Linked DNA regions of Homo sapiens: regions 1, 2, 3 and 4 are each linked to region 5. The links come from fine-mapping of genetic effects on gene expression. A gene starts in region 5. Each other region holds a variant in brackets. All regions are shown on one strand. Distances are from middle to middle. Region 1 overlaps INPP5D (inositol polyphosphate-5-phosphatase D). Region 2 overlaps INPP5D (inositol polyphosphate-5-phosphatase D). Region 3 overlaps INPP5D (inositol polyphosphate-5-phosphatase D). Region 4 overlaps INPP5D (inositol polyphosphate-5-phosphatase D). Region 5 holds the start of INPP5D (inositol polyphosphate-5-phosphatase D).

The links.
Region 1: its variant is fine-mapped to the expression of INPP5D in whole blood (TOPMed, PIP above 0.99).
Region 2: its variant is fine-mapped to the expression of INPP5D in whole blood (TOPMed, PIP above 0.99). The same link has a PIP of 0.9 or more in blood mononuclear cells.
Region 3: its variant is fine-mapped to the expression of INPP5D in blood mononuclear cells (TOPMed, PIP above 0.99). The same link has a PIP of 0.9 or more in skeletal muscle.
Region 4: its variant is fine-mapped to the expression of INPP5D in whole blood (TOPMed, PIP above 0.99).

Annotation. Positions count from the first base shown.
Region 1 is chr2:233,160,222-233,164,236 of GRCh38, reverse strand. It overlaps INPP5D (inositol polyphosphate-5-phosphatase D), which reads right to left. Exons shown (of 27, transcript NM_001017915.3): 11 at 2,411-2,513; 12 at 334-530. Among named protein-coding and RNA genes, the nearest start is that of ATG16L1, 89 kb to the left of the region's middle. RefSeq lists an enhancer at 1-578. The variant T/A (reference allele first, on the strand shown) is at 2,296.
Region 2 is chr2:233,167,767-233,171,781 of GRCh38, reverse strand. INPP5D (inositol polyphosphate-5-phosphatase D) reads right to left here. Exons shown (of 27, transcript NM_001017915.3): 14 at 2,381-2,477; 15 at 1,618-1,756; 16 at 1,178-1,286; 17 at 630-718. Among named protein-coding and RNA genes, the nearest start is that of ATG16L1, 82 kb to the left of the region's middle. The variant T/G (reference allele first, on the strand shown) is at 2,213.
Region 3 is chr2:233,174,116-233,178,130 of GRCh38, reverse strand. It overlaps INPP5D (inositol polyphosphate-5-phosphatase D), which reads right to left. Exons shown (of 27, transcript NM_001017915.3): 18 at 785-866. Among named protein-coding and RNA genes, the nearest start is that of ATG16L1, 76 kb to the left of the region's middle. The variant G/A (reference allele first, on the strand shown) is at 1,841.
Region 4 is chr2:233,083,670-233,087,684 of GRCh38, reverse strand. The region is part of intron 2 of INPP5D (inositol polyphosphate-5-phosphatase D); the gene reads right to left. Among named protein-coding and RNA genes, the nearest start is that of INPP5D, 25 kb to the right of the region's middle. RefSeq lists an enhancer at 2,812-2,861 and a silencer at 2,852-3,146. The variant C/T (reference allele first, on the strand shown) is at 1,663.
Region 5 is chr2:233,058,304-233,062,318 of GRCh38, reverse strand. It overlaps INPP5D (inositol polyphosphate-5-phosphatase D), which reads right to left and starts at 1,977. Exons shown (of 27, transcript NM_001017915.3): 1 at 1,707-1,977. The coding sequence starts at 1,840. RefSeq lists enhancers at 1-246, 1,333-1,422, 2,023-2,302 and a silencer at 1,743-1,822.

The sequences.
Region 1 (4,015 bases), 100 kb before region 5:
CCAGCCCCAGCCGCAGCCCCTGGGTATGGGGTATCCTGTCTGTAATCCCAACCCTTCGGGGGACTCCCAGCGATGCTTGATAGGCGAGACAAAACATCCTAAAGATGAGAACCGGGGCTGACCAAGGGTGGGAAGATAGAGGACTCAGTGGTTTTCAGCAATACCCCACAGATCCCATTTATTTCTGAATACAGACGCATCTCTCAGTGGGGGCCTCCAGACATCCTTGAAAACTGAGAGCTGATAGGCTGAGCCCACCCTTGCCTCTGAGACAGCCCAGCCGAGCAAAGATTCTATCCCGGAAGCCCACCCAGCGTGCAGCCAGCTGCTCACTGTTTTAAAAGTCACACTGGTGATTTCTTGCAGGGAGTGTTTGAGGATCTCCAGCCACTCCTTCTCACTCAGGGGGTCCTCTTGGGTGCCGATCACGTAAATGTCATGGGGGATGTAGTCCGCAGAGTCGTCCCGCGTCTTTCCCTGCCCCTTGGAGAGAAACCAGGACGTGATCTTCTTGGGAGGGGGGGCGTTACCTTCAACAGCAAAACCCAACACCAAGTGAGTCAAAGGCACATCGAGTCAAAGCATTAGGAGAATTCAAAACAGAGGGCGGGAGTGTGAGGGAGGTCACGTCATTACACAAGACCATCCAGGCAGCCCAAAGAAATGCCTGCAATGGAGGCCTGGGCGCCAACCTCACCCAGGATGTCGGTTAGGGCTAGAGCTCAGTTAAGCCTCTTTTTAAACGTAATGTCAAGTTTCAAGGTATAGAAACACCAGAAGATTCCCTGATGTCAGACACTGTCCTGCACTTTGAGGCTACGATAATTGAGACACAGTCCTGTCCCTCAAGGAACTCACATCCTATTCTCAAGACAGCCAAGGGAACTGACAAGTTTTAGATGGCGGGTTCTAACCCATTGTTGGGAGACAACAAAGTCTCCCTTGCAAGACAGATCCCAGCCCAGAGCGGAGGGATGCCTGGGTGTGAGCCAGAGAAACGGGAGAGTGTGGAAACTCCTCCGCATTCCCATTTCAAAACTGAGTTGAAGAAGCTCAATCAAGAAATTTTGAACGGTTCTCCCTACAATGCCCTTGAAGGATGAGCAAACTTTGTTCCTCAAAGAGATGAGCTTCTTGCCTTACAAGTGCAAAGAAGCCAAGCATTGGAGTAAATGGACTGTGGCTAAATTCTGCTCCCCCAAGAGGCTCAAAGTGGGTGCCCGAACCCCCGGGCTGGTGGGTCCCCGGCCCTCCTGCGGCATGGCCTCAGCTGGCTCCTTCCATACTCTTCTGTGGGAAGGGCACCCCTGCCCTTGTGTCATGGACATCCCTGACCATGTCCAGAGGGAGGAGATCAGGCAGACTATTGTCTCTTATTAGAAACACTGAAAGGGACCGAAGGGGACAAGTGACCCCCTGGGGCACTGGCCCGGGCTCTACTCCACGGCTGCTGTGGCCCTGGGACACGAGTGACAAGCTGTCACTTCACTTCCAGGAGGCCCCTGCCAGCCACTGCTCACCCTCTTCCTCCCAGACTCCTCTCAGGACAAGGGTAGGGGACACACGACACCCAGTGAAATTCCAATTTCAGATAAACTGGTAGTTTTTAGAATAAGTTTATCTGGATGTCTTCTATCTAATTTATTTCTACCTGAACACTTACACTAAAAAATTATTTAGTATTATTTATATTTAGTAGAGTGCATGTGTTTAGTAAATACACAATATATATGTTTAATACAAAATATATTTAGCATATATTTAGTATATTATTAGCTGTATGCTTAAACTAATATTACTTAGTATAATTCATATTTAATATAATAATTACACTTATTTAGCATATGTATATATACTATATATTCAGCATAATGTCTATGAGCATATATATTTAGTATTTATTTGTTTGTAGCTAAACATATACTAAAAAAAATTGTTTCTATGAAGTTAAAATTTAACTGGGCATCCTTTGTCTACGTACCTATCTCTCTGTCTCTCTCTGTCTCTCTCCTGATAAATCTGGCAACCCTACTCAGGGTGGACTTCTTTCTCTCAGGCCTGGGGCCCCTTGGTGAGCTGCCTAGGGCTGGCAGGGTTCCCATGAGCCCCTTCACCTAGATATTCAGACTCTTTCCCTAAAACTTTCCAATTTAGACATACAGAGTAACCCACGCCAGCTGCTCTTGGGGTACGATAGTCCCAAAGCTCGTTTTTCTTACCCATCATCTCAGGAAAAGGGTGGAATTCCTCAGGAAGGAGGTTGTGCGGGTGGGCTGGGGCTTAGGGGCAGGGCCC[T/A]GGGGCAGGAAGGAAGGGGACATGGATGTCGTCACTCCACCCCACCTTGAGGATGCCTGAGTCAGGAAAGCAGAAGCAGAGGGGGTGACTGCAGGGAGGGGGCGCGCGGACCCACCCATGTTCCAGGTGCCGATGAAGATGGTGATCATGTCGGGCTCCGGCTGCTCTGAGTGCTTGTTCTTCATCTGCTGCAGGAGCTGGCAGAAGCCTTCTCTCTTCTAGGGATGGAAGGGCAGACAGACTTAGAAAGGCCTCTGCCTCCCTGCACATTACACTTTGCAAAGGACTTGGTCAGCTTCAAGAAAACTGAGAGGAGCGTAAATCAGTGTGAACTTCCAGGACAGCAACCTGGAAACATGTGTCCAAAGTCATAAGCGAGTGGCTTCTGGCCTAGACACTCCCCTGCAAAGGTGCGACTTTAACAAAGTGATCAGGAGCTGCGCAGAAGTCCAACCCTGTCACGGCTCTGCAGCACAGGCCTCAGCACAGAAAAAAATCAGAAGCAACCTTACTGTCCAGCCTTAGGAGATTCATTAATAATGTATCAGAGGGCCAGGTGTGGTGGCTCATGCCTGTAATCCCAGCACTTTGGGAGGCCGAGGTGGGTGGATCACCTGAGGTCAGGAGTTCGAGACCAGCCTGACCAACATGGTGAAACTCCTGTCTCTACTAAAAATACAAAATTAGCCAAGCGTGGTGGTGCTTGCCTGTAATGCCAGCTACTCGGGAGGCTGAGGCAGAAGAATTGCTTGAACCCAGGAGGTGGAGGTTGCAGTGAGCCAGGATCGCATCATTGCACTCCAGCCTGGGTAACAGAGCTAGAGTCTGTCTCAAAAAAAAAAAGTATTCTAGACCATCCATAAACTAGAATATCACAGTGTTTAACAAGTGTGATCCAGAACTATCTTGCCAACAAGGACAGGTGGCCACAATATATATTTTTAAGCATGAAAAGCTAGTTGACAAATGATATGAATAGCATCATTGCATTTTTAATAAAACATTTGGGCCTGGCACAGTGGCTCATGCCTGTAATCCCAGGACTTTGGGAGGCTGAGGCAGAAGGATTGTTTGATCCCAGGAGTTTGAGACCAGCCTGGGCAACATAGGGGAACCCTGCCTCTACAAAAAATAAAAAAATTAGCCAGGCATGGTGGTGCATGCCTGTAGTCCCTCCCAACTTAGGAGGTTGAGGTGGGAGGATTACTTGAGGCCAGAAAGTTGAGGTTGCAGTGAGCCATGATCTTGCCACTGCACTTCAGCCGGGGCAACTGAACAAGACCCTGTCTCAGAAAAGAAAAGAAACAGAAAAAGAAAGAAAGAAGGGAAGGAAGAAAGAAAGAGAAAATTAAAAAACATCTGGAAGGGGCATAGTCCCAGATTAACTCATGGTATACGAGTGTTTTTATTTTAAACATTTGCTTGTTTGTGTTTGCCACGTCTTCACCAAGGAGAATAGATTACTTATGTAATGAAAGAACATTTAAATTAAAGAAACTAATTAAAAAGAAGAGAGGACATGAAGGCTTTCATAGCCTACTCAATATTTTTCACGTATTTTTCTGGGGTACCCAGTGGGGCACCAAGCAGCCTCAGTTGGCCCTCTCTTAGGATGCAATCAATAGAGCAGGCGGACTTTAACAAAGTACACAAATTTCAGGGTGTAACATATGACATGACCAGTGTTTGACTGTTTCAACCTGCAAAGACAGAAATTTTA
Region 2 (4,015 bases), 110 kb before region 5:
CTGTTTTTCCTACTGTGAAGTCCCTGGAAAAGACATCTTTGCTCTCCCATCACCTAGGAGAGTGCCTAACCCATAATAGGCCATCAGGAAATATCTTTGAACAAATGAATACATATTTTATTGCATCTTTCCCCAAAACACTGTTCCTTGGAAAACAAGTGGCCTCATAAGACATTAATTGGTGTTCCATGAATAACTGAGTTTGGCATACAGATTTCCTCATGGAGAACCACAGTGCTCTTGGGCCCATAAAAGCTCTGATAAGTCCTGCAGCGAAGAAACCTGCTTAATGTTAATTCACTCAGCAGTTTAGTAAATATATTTGATCACGGGACTTTAAAAAAATGATCTTCAGAACCCAGTTAAGGAAATAATACTTTAAAGTCCTCTCAGCATCTTAGAGTATCTGGACAGAAGGTAAATCACAAGGGTTATTTTCCCAGCTCAAAGCAGTGCACAAGTGTGGCTTCCCATTTACTCTGTAACACAAATCAACATGTGCTTTCTAATTTTTTTCTTTCCTTTTTTTTTTGCCTAATGGATGAAGACACTTTCTGTTCACCTTTTGGGAACAGACACCAGCGGGGAGGAGATGGAGGGCAGGGAAGGTGTCTATGAAGAGGACTCACCCCTGTCGCTTTCTGCTTGGTGTAGGCGTATTTGTCCCGAGTCAGTCTCTCAAAACGGTAGGTTGGGGCAAACGTGATTTCTTCCTCCTCTGAAACAGAGAGACTTTCGTTTTAATTCTGATTCCCCAGGTTTTGCATCTGGCCAATTTTCCCTATTCTTCTGGTAGGAAATCAGGGGAAAGGGGACGAAAGGATGGCTGGAAAGGCTCCAAGAGGAGAGGCTGCTGCTTTTTTTTTTTTTTTTTTTGAGACGGAGTCTGTCTTTGTTGGCCAGGCTGGAGTGCAGTGGCGCGATCTTGGCTCACTGCAAGCTCTGCCTCCCTGGTTCACACCATCCTCCTGCCTCAGCCTCCCAAGTAGCTGGGACTACAGGCACCCGCCACCACACCCGGCTAATTTTTTGTATTTTTTTAAGTAGAGACGGGGTTTCACTGTGTTAGCCAGGATGGTCTCCATCTCCTGATCTCGTGATCCGCCCGCCTCGGCCTCCTAAAGTGCTGGGATTACAGGTGTGAGCCACCGCTCCCAGCCGGGGTTGCTGCTCTTACCGAAGTGTAGGAAGACCTTCTGCTCCCTCCTCTCTGTGAGCAGCTGGTCGTGGGACAGGAGGTCTGCGTACTGCTGCTGCTTGATTTTCTGGATGATGGTTTCTGCCTCCTGGAACAAGAACATGCCCGGGCCTCTGGTGAGAAGCCCTGCTGATCCAGGCCTGACAAGCTTCGGGGCTGGGGGCGGGCAGCTGGATGACCCGGGCTGCAGAGTGATGGTGGCAGGGTGGCTGTGACAGTTATGGGAACCGGGTGTGAGCACAGGGGAACCGTGAGGAGCGGCTGAGGCTCAGTAATGGAAACAGCGTTGAGCCCCCAAGGGGAGCAGCCGCCTCAGCCCACTTGATTCACATGTCTCCACGACCACCTGCCCCAAGCTGACTCAAGGGAGCCTCCATCTCATACAGCCCCAGCCCCAGCCCCAGGCGGGCAGCCCTTACCCAGGTAGGCAGATCCACACGGTAGTTAAGATCCCCAAACCAGAAGAGGTGCGTGAAGCGGTGAGTGATGTTAAAGGGACTCAGCTTCTTGTCGCCCAGGGCCAGGAACCGGAGAATGTTCATATAGTTTTGGTTTCGCCTAATGCAAGGAAAAAGCGGCCATCTAGCACGGGGTCACTGGTTCCCCCTCCACTGTGGCAGGAAGTCACTCCTGCCATAGGTGTGGGGCGAGGAGCATAGCAGGTGGGGGGAAGTGAGACTTAGCCCTCCAGCCCTGCTGCAGCAGAACTCCTTAGTGTGCAAATATGGCACAGCCAGGATGCAAAGGGCATTTGAGGCCACATTGGGTGTACAGAGGGCAGGGGACCAGGAGCAGCAGCATCTGCTCAGCAGAGAATCAGAACAGTGAAGATTCTAGATGGCTGTCTTCATTCCTGGGCCCCAGCTAGGCAAGATCAGCTTGGATTTGTAAGGAGGCCCCAGAGGAGGCTTTCTGCTTTAGAAACAGTGCTAGTTAGCGGTCCATCAGGCTAATGACACAAGGAAATATCTTTTCTGACCTTCAGACAAAATTCCTCCACACGTGAGGTCACTA[T/G]GGTGCTGCAGTTGCCTTTGATGAGACTGTGGTGGGCCCTGAAAGGCCACAGGACATCCACAAGGTCAAAGGCAGGAGCTGAGCAGGTCCTTCTGGTGCTTAAAGGTGTGAGGCGTGTCTGGGCAGACAGCCCAAATGCACACTCTTGGGGGGAAGGAGTTCCATTACCTGAGTTTCTTTTCACTTCCTGAAGTCAAGTGGCTGTTGACGAACCCTAAGGAGGTTCCATTGAACATGAACGACACCCCCACGGCTCCCTTGTTCCCTAAAAAGAAGAGCAGAAAGAAGAATCAAAATATCAAACAGACACACTTGCCAAGGGGCCAGAAATCACCCGAAGGCAGGGTGAGAGGGGCAGTGAGTGAGGAGCTGGCAAGGGATGGGCGAAACAGGGTCGTGCAGGGTGGGAGCCGCTGGGCAGAGAGCGGGAGATGAGAAAATGCAGGAGCAGTGCAGATGGCGGCAGCCTCAGCCTTCTCGGCGGGGCAGAGGAAGGTGGCTGCTGCGATCCTCCCCCGGCATCTCTCTCTAAAGTGACCAGGGTGCTAAGCGGGCAGCCAGAAGCCCTGGGAAGATTCAGAAGGTTCCAGCCTGGGTGGGCTGATCTCCCTCCCAGTGAACTCAAGTTTCCTGGGGAGACCAAAAACCCACACTGAGATCATACCTTTTTCTGCCAACGTTCTGATCTATTCTAGGTCAGTGGTTCCCAAAGGGAGTTCCCTGGACCAGCAGCTGCACATCACCTGGGAACTTCATGGAAGGGCAGATTCTCAGCCCCACCCCAGACCTACTGAATCTGAAATCCTGGGATGGGGCCCAGTAATCTGTGTTTGACAAGCCCTCCAGTGTCAGGGGTGGGCAAATGCTGGCTCACTGCCAGCTACAAATGGTTTTACATTTGTAAATGGTTGGAAACAAATCAAAAGAAAAACCATCTTTTGTCATTCATGAAAATACGAAATTCAAATTTCAGTGTTCGTAAAGAACACGTTACTGGAACACAGCCATGCCTATTGACTTCTGGATTGTCTGTAGCTGCTTTCAGACTACGATGGCAGAGCTGAAGCATTGTGACAGTTGTGTGGCCCAAAGAGCCTAGAATATTCACCATCTGGCCTTCTATGGAAAACGCTTGTTAACCCCTGCTCTAGGTGATTCTGACACATGCAGGTGAGAACCTGCTCTGTCCAATACAGGCACAGGCCACATGTGACTATCAAACACCTGAAATGTGGCTGGTACAAAATGAGACAGGTTGTGAGTGTAAAATACACATTGGAATTGTGGCCTTGGTAAGAAACACAGACTGTAAAATATCTAATAACCTTTTACATTAAATATCTATTGAAATAATTGTATTTTGGATGTATGAAATTCAATAAAATCTATTATTGAAATTAATTTCACTTGTTTTCTTTTTAATGTGGCTACTAGAAAATTTGATCTATTGATTGTAATAAATCAAATTGTAATCTATTTTGATCATAAATCTATTTATTTATGATCTATTTGGCTCCCATCATTTTCTTTTCTTCCTTTCTTTCTTTTTTTTTTTTTTTTTTTTGGAGACAGAGTCTCACTCTGTCTCCCAGGCTGGAGTGCAGTGGCGCGATCTCTGCTTACTGCAACCTCCGTCTCCCAGGTTCAAGCAATTCTCCTGTCTCTGCCTCAGGAGTAGCTGGGACTACAGGCACCCACCACCACACCCAGCTAATTTTTTGTATTTTAGTAGAGACGAGGTTTCACCGTGTTGCCCAGGTTGGTCTCAAACTACTGAGCTCTGGCAATCTGCCTGCCTCAGCC
Region 3 (4,015 bases), 120 kb before region 5:
TTTTGATAACTTATTCCATAATTATTTATTTTAATATTACATGTTATGCCTTCTAAAAATCAATTTAACTCAATTTATGGTTAAACCTCCCCAAATATATATGTGTATATATGTGTACACACTTGCGACATGTATTAGTTTGAGCCATATGAATTTCCAATAACTATTTCTGACCTACAAAAACACTTTCATATGGTTCACACTTAATATGTTCTTTTCAAAAGAAATAAAACTGAATTTTTAAAAAAGTGCTCCGGGTCGGCCGCGGTGGCTCATGCCTGTAATCTCAGCACTTTGGGAGGCCGAGGTGGGCTGACCACCTGAGGTCAGGAGTTTGCAACCAGCCTGGCCAACATGGTGAAACCCCGTCTCTACTAAAAATACAAAAATTAGCCAGGCATGGTGGCAGGAGCCTGTAATCCCAGCTGCTTGGGGAGGCTGTGGCACGAGAATCGCTTGAACCCAGGAGGTAGAAGTTGTGGTGAGATGAGATCATGCCATTGTACTCCAGCCTGGGTGACAGAGTGAGACTCCGTCTCAAAAAGAAAAAGAAAAAAAGTGCTCTATAATTCAAATGTCTCCTAAAGCAGGGGATATGGATTAGGTGGCAGCACAAGACAGGCAGGGAAGCATCAACATTTCCAGGTCGCCTGATTAGGGTTACAGTGAATTCCTCCCTTTGACACATCAACAGACTGAAGCCCTTAGATTTTAGGGCAGTCACACCTCCCAGCTTGGTGCCATTCTCTGATCCTGTTCTGCTTTCCCCAGTGTTTGAACTCACCATAAGACTGACACACCACGTGCACCAGGGGATAAGACTTCCAGAGGACTCGGTCACACCAGGAAGGCAAGTTGTACTTCATCTGCAAATCAAAGTCATAGGCTTTAAAAAATGCCTCTTATTATTATTTTTTTAATCAGTAAAAGAACAGATTAACTGGTGGCCTCTGTAATCCTCAAATTCATCGGCTGTTGGCTTTTTATAGAATTTCCCTGTAGGTGGCTTTAAACTTTTTTCACATGGCTCAAGTCCAGACTCCACTGCCACGCCTTCTTCTTTAGACTAAGATAACTCACCTTGCTGTATTCCCTCACATATCCTCCTGACTACTTCAGTATCCCTTGTATCTTCACCTTCTCTTACTTTCTTTCTGACTCAGATGAACCCCCACCTGTATTTTCAGCTCAGTCTCTGCTCACTTTCTGCAGTCACTTACTTTAATAACACACTTCAGCTTCCACCCCCAGTTCTATTCATCCATCTGTCCACCTTTTCATCTCCCCATCTACCCATCTTTACTCATTCACCCATCCATCCATCCACCTACCCACCTATTCATTCATCCATCCACCCATCCACTTATCTACCTATTCATTCATCTATCCATCCACCCATCCATCCAACTACCTGTCCATTTCATCCATCCACCCATCCACCTATTCATCCACTCATCCATCCACCCACCCACCCATCCATCCACCCACCGACTAGCCATCCATCCATCCACCCATCCACCTATCATCATTTATCATCCTCCACCAACCCACACATCATCAATCCATTATCATCCTCACACCACACATCATCATCATCATCATCATCATCCACACTACCACCATATGGCTATCATCCATTCACCCATTCACCCACCTATCCACCCATCCATCCACCTATCCACCCATCCATCCATCCATCCATTCACCCACCCACACATCCATCTATCTATCCATCCATCCATCCACCCACCCACCCACCTATCCATTCGCCTATCCATCCATCCATCCATCCATCCATCCATCCATCCATCCATCGCACCCATCCACTCATCCATTGACC[G/A]TTCACACACCCGTCTACCTACTTATCCAATCACTCAAACAGTATCTATTAATACTATATGACAAGCCCTCTCCAGGGCCTCAGGCTGCAATGATGAGCAAGATGTCCATTAGGTGGGATAGACAAGGTAAACTGGCAATAACAACCCTCTTTTATCAATATCCTTATCCCCTCATGTTCTAGCTCTTTCTTCTCTGTCTACAAACATAAAGGAACTCATCCTGAAAGAGCTTATCTCTGTCATCTCCTTCAATTACTTTTCTCTTTTCTTCCTTTTACCAATTTTCTTTCAAGAATGTTCTATTTTCAGGCTGGGCATGGTGGCTCATGCCTGTAATCCCAGCACTTTGGGAGGCCAAGGCGGGTGGATCACCTGAGGTCGGGAGTTCGAGACCACCCTGACCAACATGGCGAAACCCCATCTCTGCTAAAAATACAAAATTACCCGGGCATGGTGGCGCATGCCTGTAATCCCAGCTACTCAGGAGGCTGAGGCAGGAGAATCGCTTGAACCCAGAAGGTGGAGGTTGTGGTGTGCTGAGATTGCGCCACTGCACTCCAGCCTGGGCAATAAGAGCAAAACTCCATCTCAAAAAAAAAAAAACAAAAGTTTTTATTTTCATTCTCTCTACTTCTGAACCATTCACTTTTTAAAAAAAACTTTAGGTACAACTTACATAAAGTGTACTAACCATAAGTGTACAGTCCCATGCATTTTTAGGTTTGTATAAACCCACTTACCCACTACCCAGAGCAAGATACAGAAAACCGCCATCATCCTAAAGCTTCCCTCATAAGCCTTCCTTGTCAATACCAGAGCCTCCTAAAGGTGAGCATTAGTGTGACTAACATCTCCATTGATTAATTTATATGAACGTATATAAATGGACTCACTCAGTAGATACTCTTTTATGTTGGACTCCTTCAGCCACTTCGTTGCTTATAAAAGTTCCATTGTTTATAAGTATCACATTTATCTACTCTACTGTTAATGGACATAGGGTTGTTTTCAGTTTTGAAGATTACAAACAAGGCTGCCATAAACATTCATTTTTTTTTTTTTTTTTTTTTTTGAGATGGAGTCTCGCCCTGTTGCTGAGGTTGGAGTGCAGTGGCATGGTCTCGGCTCACCACCATCTCCACCTCCCAGGTTCCAGTGATTCTCCTGCCTCAGCCTCCCGAGTAGCTGGGATTACAGGCGCCCATCAGCATGCCCGGCTAATTTTGTATAGAGACGGGTTTCGCGGTGTTGGCCAGACTGGTCTGGAACTCCTGACTTCAGGTGATTCACCTGCTTTGGCCTCCCAAAGCTCTGGGATTATAGGCGTGAGCCACCATGCCCGGCTAAACATTCTTATACCTATTTTTGGTGAACAAATATACAAATTTCTCTTGAACACACACCAAAGCGGAATTACTGAATCATAGAATAGGTGCATTTTTAGTTTTCATTGATTCTGCCTAACAGTTAGTTAAGTCCTTTTTTTTTTTTTTTTTTTGAGACAGGGTCTCACTCTGTTGCCCAGGCTGGAGTGCAGTGGGGCAATCTCAGCTCACTGCAACCTCTGTCTGCCGGATTCAAACAATTCTCCTGACTCAGCCTTCTGAGTAGCTGGGATCACAGGAGTGCGCCACCACACCTGGCTAATTTTTGTATTTTCAGTAGAGATGGGGTTTCGCCATGTTGGCCAGGCTGGTCTCAAACTCCTGGCCTCAAATGATTTACCTGCCTCAGCTCCCAAAGTGTTGGGAATACAGGCATGAGCCACTGTGCCCAGCCTAAACAGTTACTTCTTAACATTGCAGTTCTCGGCATCAGCTGCCTCTGAGAATTACCCGTGGGGCTCCACAAATAGTCATGTACCACAGTAATGGACTGCATATAGGACAGAGGTCCTACAAAATTATAATGGAGCTGGAAAATCCCCATCACGTAGTGCTGCTGTAGCTGTCATCACGTCACAGCGCAACACATTACTCACATGCTTCTGGGGATGCTGGTGCAAACCAGCCCACTGCACTGCCAGCTGTGTAAAAGCATAACAGTACAATTCTGTTCAGTACATAATATTTGATAATGATAAACAACTGTCACTCATTTCCGTGTTTACGATATTATTTATCATTAGAGTGTATTCCTACTTATAAGAAAATGTTAACTATAAAATAGCCTCA
Region 4 (4,015 bases), 25 kb before region 5:
TAGTTCTAGTATAGATGATAAATAAGTCAATATAAAAATGTATATTTTCAAATACCTCAGGGCTGGGCATGGTGGCTCACACCTGTAATCCCAGCACTTTGGGAGGCTGAGGCGGGCAGATCACAAGGTCAAGAGGTCGAGACCATCCTGGGCAACATGGTGAAACCCTGTCTCTACTAAAAACACAAAAATTAGCTGGGTGTGGTGGCATGTGCCTGTAGTCCCAGCTACTCGGGAGGCTGAGGCAGGAGAATCACTTCAACCCGGGAGGCAGGGGTTGCAGTGAGCTGAGCCGAGATTGTGCCACTGCACTCCAGCCTGGTGACAGAGTGAGACTCCGTCTCAAAAAAATAAATAAATAAATAAATATAATATAAAATCAGGTAGTCACAAGTGCCACAAAGAAAAGAAAGGAGGGTAAGGGGTTAAAGAGCAACAGGTGAAGGGTGGGGTGACTATTTTTCTGGGGTGATCAAGTGAGGCCTCTCAGAAAGACTTTCTTCTATTTGGCAAACCCGAAGTGGCCTCTTGCAAATCTGACAGACACAATTAGACCCGGAAGCTGATCTCGAAGGGCAAAGTCAAGATGAGAAGCGAAACCATCCTGCAATAAGCAAGAAATCATGCCTCCCCAGTGCACAGACATTGTTAAAATACTGATTGATTTTTGTGCTTTTTCTGGTCAGGGTTAGAGAAAGAGATGTTGAGCCCAAGGATGTCTGACAGGAACATAAGTCATTAGGAATGTCTGGGACAGGGCTGGAGCAGGTCCCAGAAACACGACACAGGCTAAGGAGAAGGAAGACCCAGAGACTGTGTTGTCAGACCGTGGCTCATGGGCATTTGGTGCAGTGAAACTCGATATTCAATTTGAAATTTTCACTTTTCTGCTTTGAAATTCCCCTGGGATAGTTTAAACCTTTGTAAGTTAGGACACTTTTAGCTGTTAGAAAACCCTAACTCAACTAACTTGAGCAAAAAGAAATTAATTAACTCACAAAACAGAAAATCTAGAGGAGGGCAGATCCCAGGTTGCTTCATTCTGTTCAGCAAATTCAAGGGCATCATCCAGGACCCAGGTTCACTTCTCCTTTCCGTGTGTTGGCCTCACTCGCCAGCTACCTCTCCTCATGGTTACAAGGCAGCAGCAGAGACCCAGCTATCACATCCTATGGCAGCTTCCAAAGGTAGGAAAGAGGCTATCTTGGCTGGGTGCGGTGGCTCACACCTGTAATCCCAGCACTTTGGGAGGCCAAGGCGAGCAGATTACCTGAGGTCAGGAGTTCGAGACCAGCCTGACCAACATAGTGAAGTCCCATCTCTTCTAAAAATACAAAAATTAGCCCGGCATGGTGGCAGGTGCCTGTAATCCCAGCTACTTGGGAGGCTGAGGCAGGAGAATCACTTGAACCCAGGAGGCGGAGGTTGTGGTGAGCCGAGATCATGCCATTGCCCTCCACCCTGGGCAACAAGAGCGAAACTCTGTCTCAAAAAGGAAAGAAAGAAAGAAAGAAAGAAAGAAAGAAAGAAAGAAAGAAAGAAAGAAAGAAAGAAAGAAAGAAAGAGGCTATCTTATCCCTATGTCTGTTTTTAAGACAAACAGACCTTTACTAGAAGCCCACAAAGCCCTTCTCTTCACATCTCATTGGTTACACTTGCATC[C/T]CATTCCCCAGTCTAAACTTATCGGCTACATGGTGCATGTTGATGTTAGTTCTAGACCGCTTTGGGTAACAAAGACAGGAAACAGGCCCATGATCTGGGGCAAGGTGAACCAGAAGGCTCTGGAACATGGAGAAACAAGGACAAAATGGCTAGTGGGGATGGGGAGAAAATAAAGACAGTCATTTGGAGGTAGAGATGACAAATGGCATGGATACTCTTTCCAGAATTCTCTGACAGACTGGGGAAGGGATTAGGGATCTTGCAGCCACACAAGAGGGAGGGGCTGCTCAGTCACAAAGGCATGTGTACCCCAGGGGGCTAGAAAACGGGGGGAGGCTTGGCTTTCTCAGGGGATTAGAAGAAAGATGCCAGAAGAGCTGGAATAAAAACTTACTCAAAGACCTAACAGAAGAAAGGTCTTTTGTGTCAAAGAACAGAGTTTGCAAAGTGAACAAGCCGAACACATTGCAGGTACTATCAATGAAAGGAAAATGACAACACTGGAAAAGAATTCCCACCGGCTTCAAAGTAGAAAAAAAGAAAAAAATGGGTCGCCTCTATAGGAACCAGCACAAGTTTGGCCTTGGATTTTGTACTCGGAACTATTCATAACGCTACATTCTTTTTTTTTTTTTTCTTTGAGACAGTCTTGCTCTGTCACCCAGCTGGAGTGCAGTGGTGAGACCTCAGCTCGCTGCAGCCTCTGCCTCTCAGGTTCAAGCGATCCTCCCACCTCAGCCTCCGGAGTAGCTGTGACTACGGGCATGCACCACCACACCCGACTAAGTTTTGCATTTTTAGTAGAGACGGGGTTTCACCATGTTGCCCAGGCTAGTCCCAAACTCCTGACCTCAGGTGATCCACCTGCCTCAGCCTCCCAAAGTGCTGGGATTACAGGAGTGAGCCACTGCACCCAGCCTGTAACACTACATTCTTGAAGGTAGTGCTGTACCTTTTACAGGATTTTGAGCGAACAGTTGGTTCCAAGAATTTTATATCTATCAAATTACTCTTGAATGTGTAGACAACTAAAGATGTTTTGAGATATTCAGAGGCTTGGAAAATAGATCTGTCCATATTCTGCAGTAGACAGAAAAACCAATTCAAAATGCAGGCTTCTAGAAGGTGAGTGTCAGAGCATAAAGGAACCCCTCCACCAGCACGGACCCCCTTGGGGCCCATTGTCCTTGGCATGGCTGTGGAGCCCACACAGGGCAGCCCTGGCCGTGCTAGGCTTCTATGCCCTGAACCTTTTCTGTGCCCCTTGTTGTGCAACTTCAGGAAGTGTGTTAGAGCCACATCCTTTGCCCGGCGGCTCAGACGGAATCTTTACTTCACTCAGTGACCACTCAGAACAATAACAGCTGCCACTCGCTTCCTGAGCTTAATAACAATGGCTCAACCGTTCACCTCCCGGATGCTTGTGACGGAACAGCTTTTAGAAAGTTGTTTTGTTTTCCCTCTCCAAAAGCCATGTCGCCCGGAGATACGTGACAGCCACCGTCAGGGACCAGGGACTTGAGTCACAAGTGTCTCTTCTTTAGAACTCACCGGAATGGCTCAGACCACTGGATTTTTTCTTCCAAATCGGGAAAGAATAATGAAAGGGTCTATGAGATAGATATTTTCTAACTCTTCATCTAAACTTGCATGAAAACCTGGGAGTGTGGCTGGGCATGGTGGCTCACGCCTGTAATCCCAACACTTTGGGAGGCTGAGGCGGGTGGATCACTTGAGCCCAGGCGTTTGAGACCAGCCTGGGCAACATAGTGAAACCCTATCTCTACAGAAAAATACAAAATTTAGCTGGGCATAGTGGTGCACACCTGTAATCTCAGCTACTCAGGAGACTGAGGTGGGAGAATTGCTTGAGCCTGGGAGCAGAGGTTGCAGTGAGCCGAGGTCGCGCCACTGCACTCCAGCCTGGTCTACAGAACAAGACCCTGTCTCAAAAACAAAACAAAACAAAACAGAAAAACACCTGGGGGTGCTCCCATCTTGACTGAAACAATCAATATCCTAGATACAATCTCAACCTCAAGAAAAGACAGGAAGTTCACAGAGAACATTGATGTGATAGGGGATTATGGGTAGTTCTAATTTTCTGCTTTATTCCTCTCGGTGGGAAGGATGTTAGAAAGGACGCAAGGGCCAAAAGGTTGTAGGGTGGAGCCGAAGGGCCTCTTTTGCTTCAACTGTGGCCCTAGGTTTGAGACAGCCATTTATGCGACACGTCTGAGGCCACTCCAGGCCTCCCTGGCCACCCTGGAGCTGGCCCATGAGGGCGGCTTGCAGGACCTCAGACTCTTCCTTACTTTCCCAAAGAGGGGCCATTTCAAAGGCAGCAGCAGCC
Region 5 (4,015 bases):
AGAGAGACCCACGCCCCATGTCTGTAACCTGAGCAACCACAAAGCAAGCCCTGGTCAAAGGGCTGTGTTGAAGGTTAATGAGATGGGGCCCTGGAAGCCCTCGGCTCAGCCAACACCAAACAGCCAGGACAAGATCCCACTGGGCCAGGAGAGAAATCCAAGTAACCCACATGGGCCAGGTGGAGTCAGACTGGGCTTGTGAGAGGCCTAAGAGAATCTTCCTGCTCCTTCTAAGGCCCCGGCAGCAGCAGGTCCCCACTGGGGAAGTCCAGGCAGCCTGGGCCTGCGTTCCTTCCCCTGAGGCATGAGAGAGGGGACACAGGAAACCAGTCTTTGGAGGTGGGGCTGCAGACTGTCAGCACAGGCCAGCGACCAGCTGCGAGCCTGGCTTGGTTTCCAGTGCCCCAGCTGACCCTGTAAACACTGTGGCTCCCCTTGCTTCTTTCTCCAGCCCTGCAAGGCTACATGCCTGCCCCGCTGGACTGGGAGCAGGAGAGGTTGGGCCACAGGCTGCTGGTCTCAGCTGCAGCCTCTGGGGGCAGATGGCCGTGGCTTTGACTGTTGTCACTCACTTAACCTGCCAGGGCCTCAGATTTCTCATCTGCAAAGTGGGGCTTTTAACAGGACCTTCACTTTAGGTTGTGGTGAGGATGAAATGGGCTAACAAATGCTTAGCACGACAGGTCCCAGCTGTGAGTCAGTATTCAAAACAGGTCTGGGTTCATCACCCAATTCCCCTCCTGCCTGGAGAAGCACAAGGCCCTGGCTGCTCGGGGGAACATTTCTGCCAGCCCAGGGATGCTACTTGAGATGTTCAGGTGGACACACATTTCCCTGACTACACTCCGGCACTGCCTGAGGCCCCGGCAAAATGATTAGACCAAGAGCTGCAGGGCAAGGCCCCCCTATGATTAGACCGAGAGCTGCAGGGCAAGGGCCTCCTTCAGACGCTGGACAGGAAGGGGGTTTTAGAAAGGAACCTTCAGCAAGTGGCTGGTTCCTCCATTGTTAGCACAGCTGGTACATTCAGTAACATCCCCAACCGGGCAGTGGGAGGAGTTGATGGTGACAGAGACCCAAATTGAGGGGGTGGGGGGTGGGCAGCGGTCACAGCCAAGTGCTCAGGAGAGAGAAGAGGCTGCTCGCTGGTGGTAATGGTGACTTCCTCTGCTCTCAGGCCCCTGAAAGCAGCTTCTGACTGAATGGAAAGTCCTTTCTTGATTAAACTCACCCCATATTCTTGGCTCGCCAAACAACAGCTTCCTCCAGGGGCCCGAAGCCTGGGTGCTCCAGGAAGGGTCCCCCTTGCCACCTTTGCTCTTCTCAGGGTTTCTGAGCTGGGCATCTTTGAGCTGATCTCTAACACACCCACCTCCACAGAGCCCTGAGCTTCCTCCTGGCTCCAAAAGCCCAAACTCCCTTCTCTCGGTCCCCAGACTCCAAGGAAGCCACAAGGTCCATACAGCTCATGGGAAGCTGGGGTGTAACATCAGGCCTCAGAGTGGTTCTGACAGCTCCAAGGCTGCAAAACCTGCCATGAGACCAGCTCTCTGAACTCCAAGGACAAGGTCCATGACAGGGTGGCGGGGAAGTGTGCATGTCAGATCACTCTGTCCTGTGACATAAGAACAACCCATCTCAAAGCTGGGCCCCCTCTAAGCCCCTCTGTCATATCTGTGCCCGGGGAGGGAGCAGGTTGTACTCACAGCACGCAGAGCGCGTATGCCCGGGAGATGGACTCGCTGGCACGCACGAGGAAGCTCCCGTCCTTGCCTGTCCTGGAAAGCAGCTCCTCCGCCTTGGAGCGGGTGATGTTGCCATGGTTCCAGCAGGGGACCATGGTGGGCGTGGGCCTCCTCGGCCGGGCCGGCAGGCACCCCCAGGACCCACACACCACCGAGGGGAGCGGAGGCCCCTCCACTGCAACCTGCCGCCCGTTGCCTCTTGGTGGCCTCGGCTGCTGCCACCAGCTTAACTGACTGACTTCCTGTTTCAGGCGCTCAGTGAGGGAAAGGAAACTGAGCTGCGGAGAACTTCCTCATTACAGAAACCAAGCAAGAGAGAGAGAGAGAAAGAGAGAGAGGGGGGGGCCCTGGCCGTCCACCGTCCCCTACACCCTGCCACGGCTGCCGCGGCTCTCTTGCCAGCCCTCTCCTTCCTGGCAACTGGTCGCAGCGTACAATTGAAGTGTCCAGTGGCAGCTGAAGTCCCCCTGGGTGGAATGACCGGCTCTGGAGACGTCAGGAGAGTTGTGGCCACTTCTGAAGAAGCATGGCCTAGCAGGCATGGGTGGGCCAGAGAAGTGGTTCTTCTGCGGCCGTGCTGACACCCACGTGGGATGCCATGCCCTAGACAGGCCCCCGAGCCTTCTGCTCTCCCTCAGGGCTTTTCAGCACCCACCCTGAACCTCCAAAACACCCAAGGGGGCACAGCTTCTCAACTGGGACTACGGCCTGCCCAGGACAGAGCAAACTTGAGGGGGAGGGGACAGTCGAGCCCCACCCCTCCCCTTTAGAGACTCCCAGCGGCCTGGGTGCTGGGAGACCTTGGCTGCCACCAGCCGAGGGCGCCAAGGTCCAAGTGATGGCTCTGTGACCCCATTACCCTCATTCCCAGGGGCGGGTGGGTGCTGCACGGGCAGCACAGCTCTGATCCCTGCAGTCCAGCTTGGAGACACACAAAGGGAGCTTGGAGGGGATGTGGGCCGTTTACAGCGGGAACATAGGCTGGGTTTTTCCCTGGGCTTCTCCAGGATGCTGGGGAAACAAGCTCGGAGAGGAGAACCCCAAAGCCCCACAGGGCAGGCTGGCCGCCTGGCCAAGGACAACACTGGGTGCTGAGTCCTGCGTCTCAGCAGTCGGGGTGGCCGGTCGGACTGCACCGCCTCCAAGACTGGGCATGGCCACATATGCCCACCACTCAAAGAGGAGCTGCCTCTCCAGGGACCGCCATCCAGGACCAGTCATTTCTGAGGGCTCTGCGGTGGACACCCATCCCTCAGCCCCCAGACCTGGGCACCTTCCGTCCTTGGGTCCGGCCCACCAAGGCCGAAGGGGCACGTGTTGACCCGCTGCACAAAGAGTGCCCCCACCATCCCACATCCAGGCCTTGGCCTCCAGGACATGACAACAGACTCCCTCCAGGAAGGGGCACCAGCCAGGCAGCGCCACCACATTCAAGCTGTGGGAACCTGGTCAAGTTTCTTCTCTCTCTCGGCCTTGGTTTCTTCTTGTCTAACTTGAAGGACGTAGCTCGTAAAAGAGCTCACATGTGCCCAGGGGCTCAACATGTGTCACACTGATGGTTGTCCCAGAACAGGGCCCCCAGCACCTCCCCGCTGAGCAACACACATGGCAGGCGAGTCTGTAGGGCAGACAAAGCACTCCCAGTCAAGGACCTCTGGCCAGGCTGGGAGCCAGGCGTGGGGATAGAGTGGTGATGGGAACTGGCCTCCATGCTCCGGCCCTTCCGCAGCACGCCACCTCTGCAGCAGCCCAGTGTGGAGGCCTCTCATTCCCCACCCACGCCTCCACTCAGCACCTGTCCACCCCCTCCTTATGGGGTCATCTCCTATGCTCCCATTGTGTACCTTCACACCCTTCTCACTTCCCTGCTGGCCTCCACCAACATCCATGAAGTCCTGGACCACGCCACCAGGAGGATCCATTTGCAATACTGGTCCCTTTACACCTCCACCCACTCATCTCTAGAGACCCCTACCATGCCAAGACTGCCCTACTTAGAGAGCTTCCCCCAAACCCCCAGCCCCCCACCTCTCACACCTCTATTCCCACGGTCCTTGCCATTCCACAGAGTGAGATCCCCTGGCACACACGCCACACGGGCACTCTTCCCTCATTTTTAAGGCCCATCCCAACTTTGCTTCCTTTTCCACCCAATTGCCTGATCTATCCAGCATGGTCAGCTGGCTTGTCCCCCACCCTTCTGCCCTCCACATTCAGGAAATCCCAGTATCTAGATCAGAGCTGCCCTTTTGGTGGGTGGATTTTTTTTT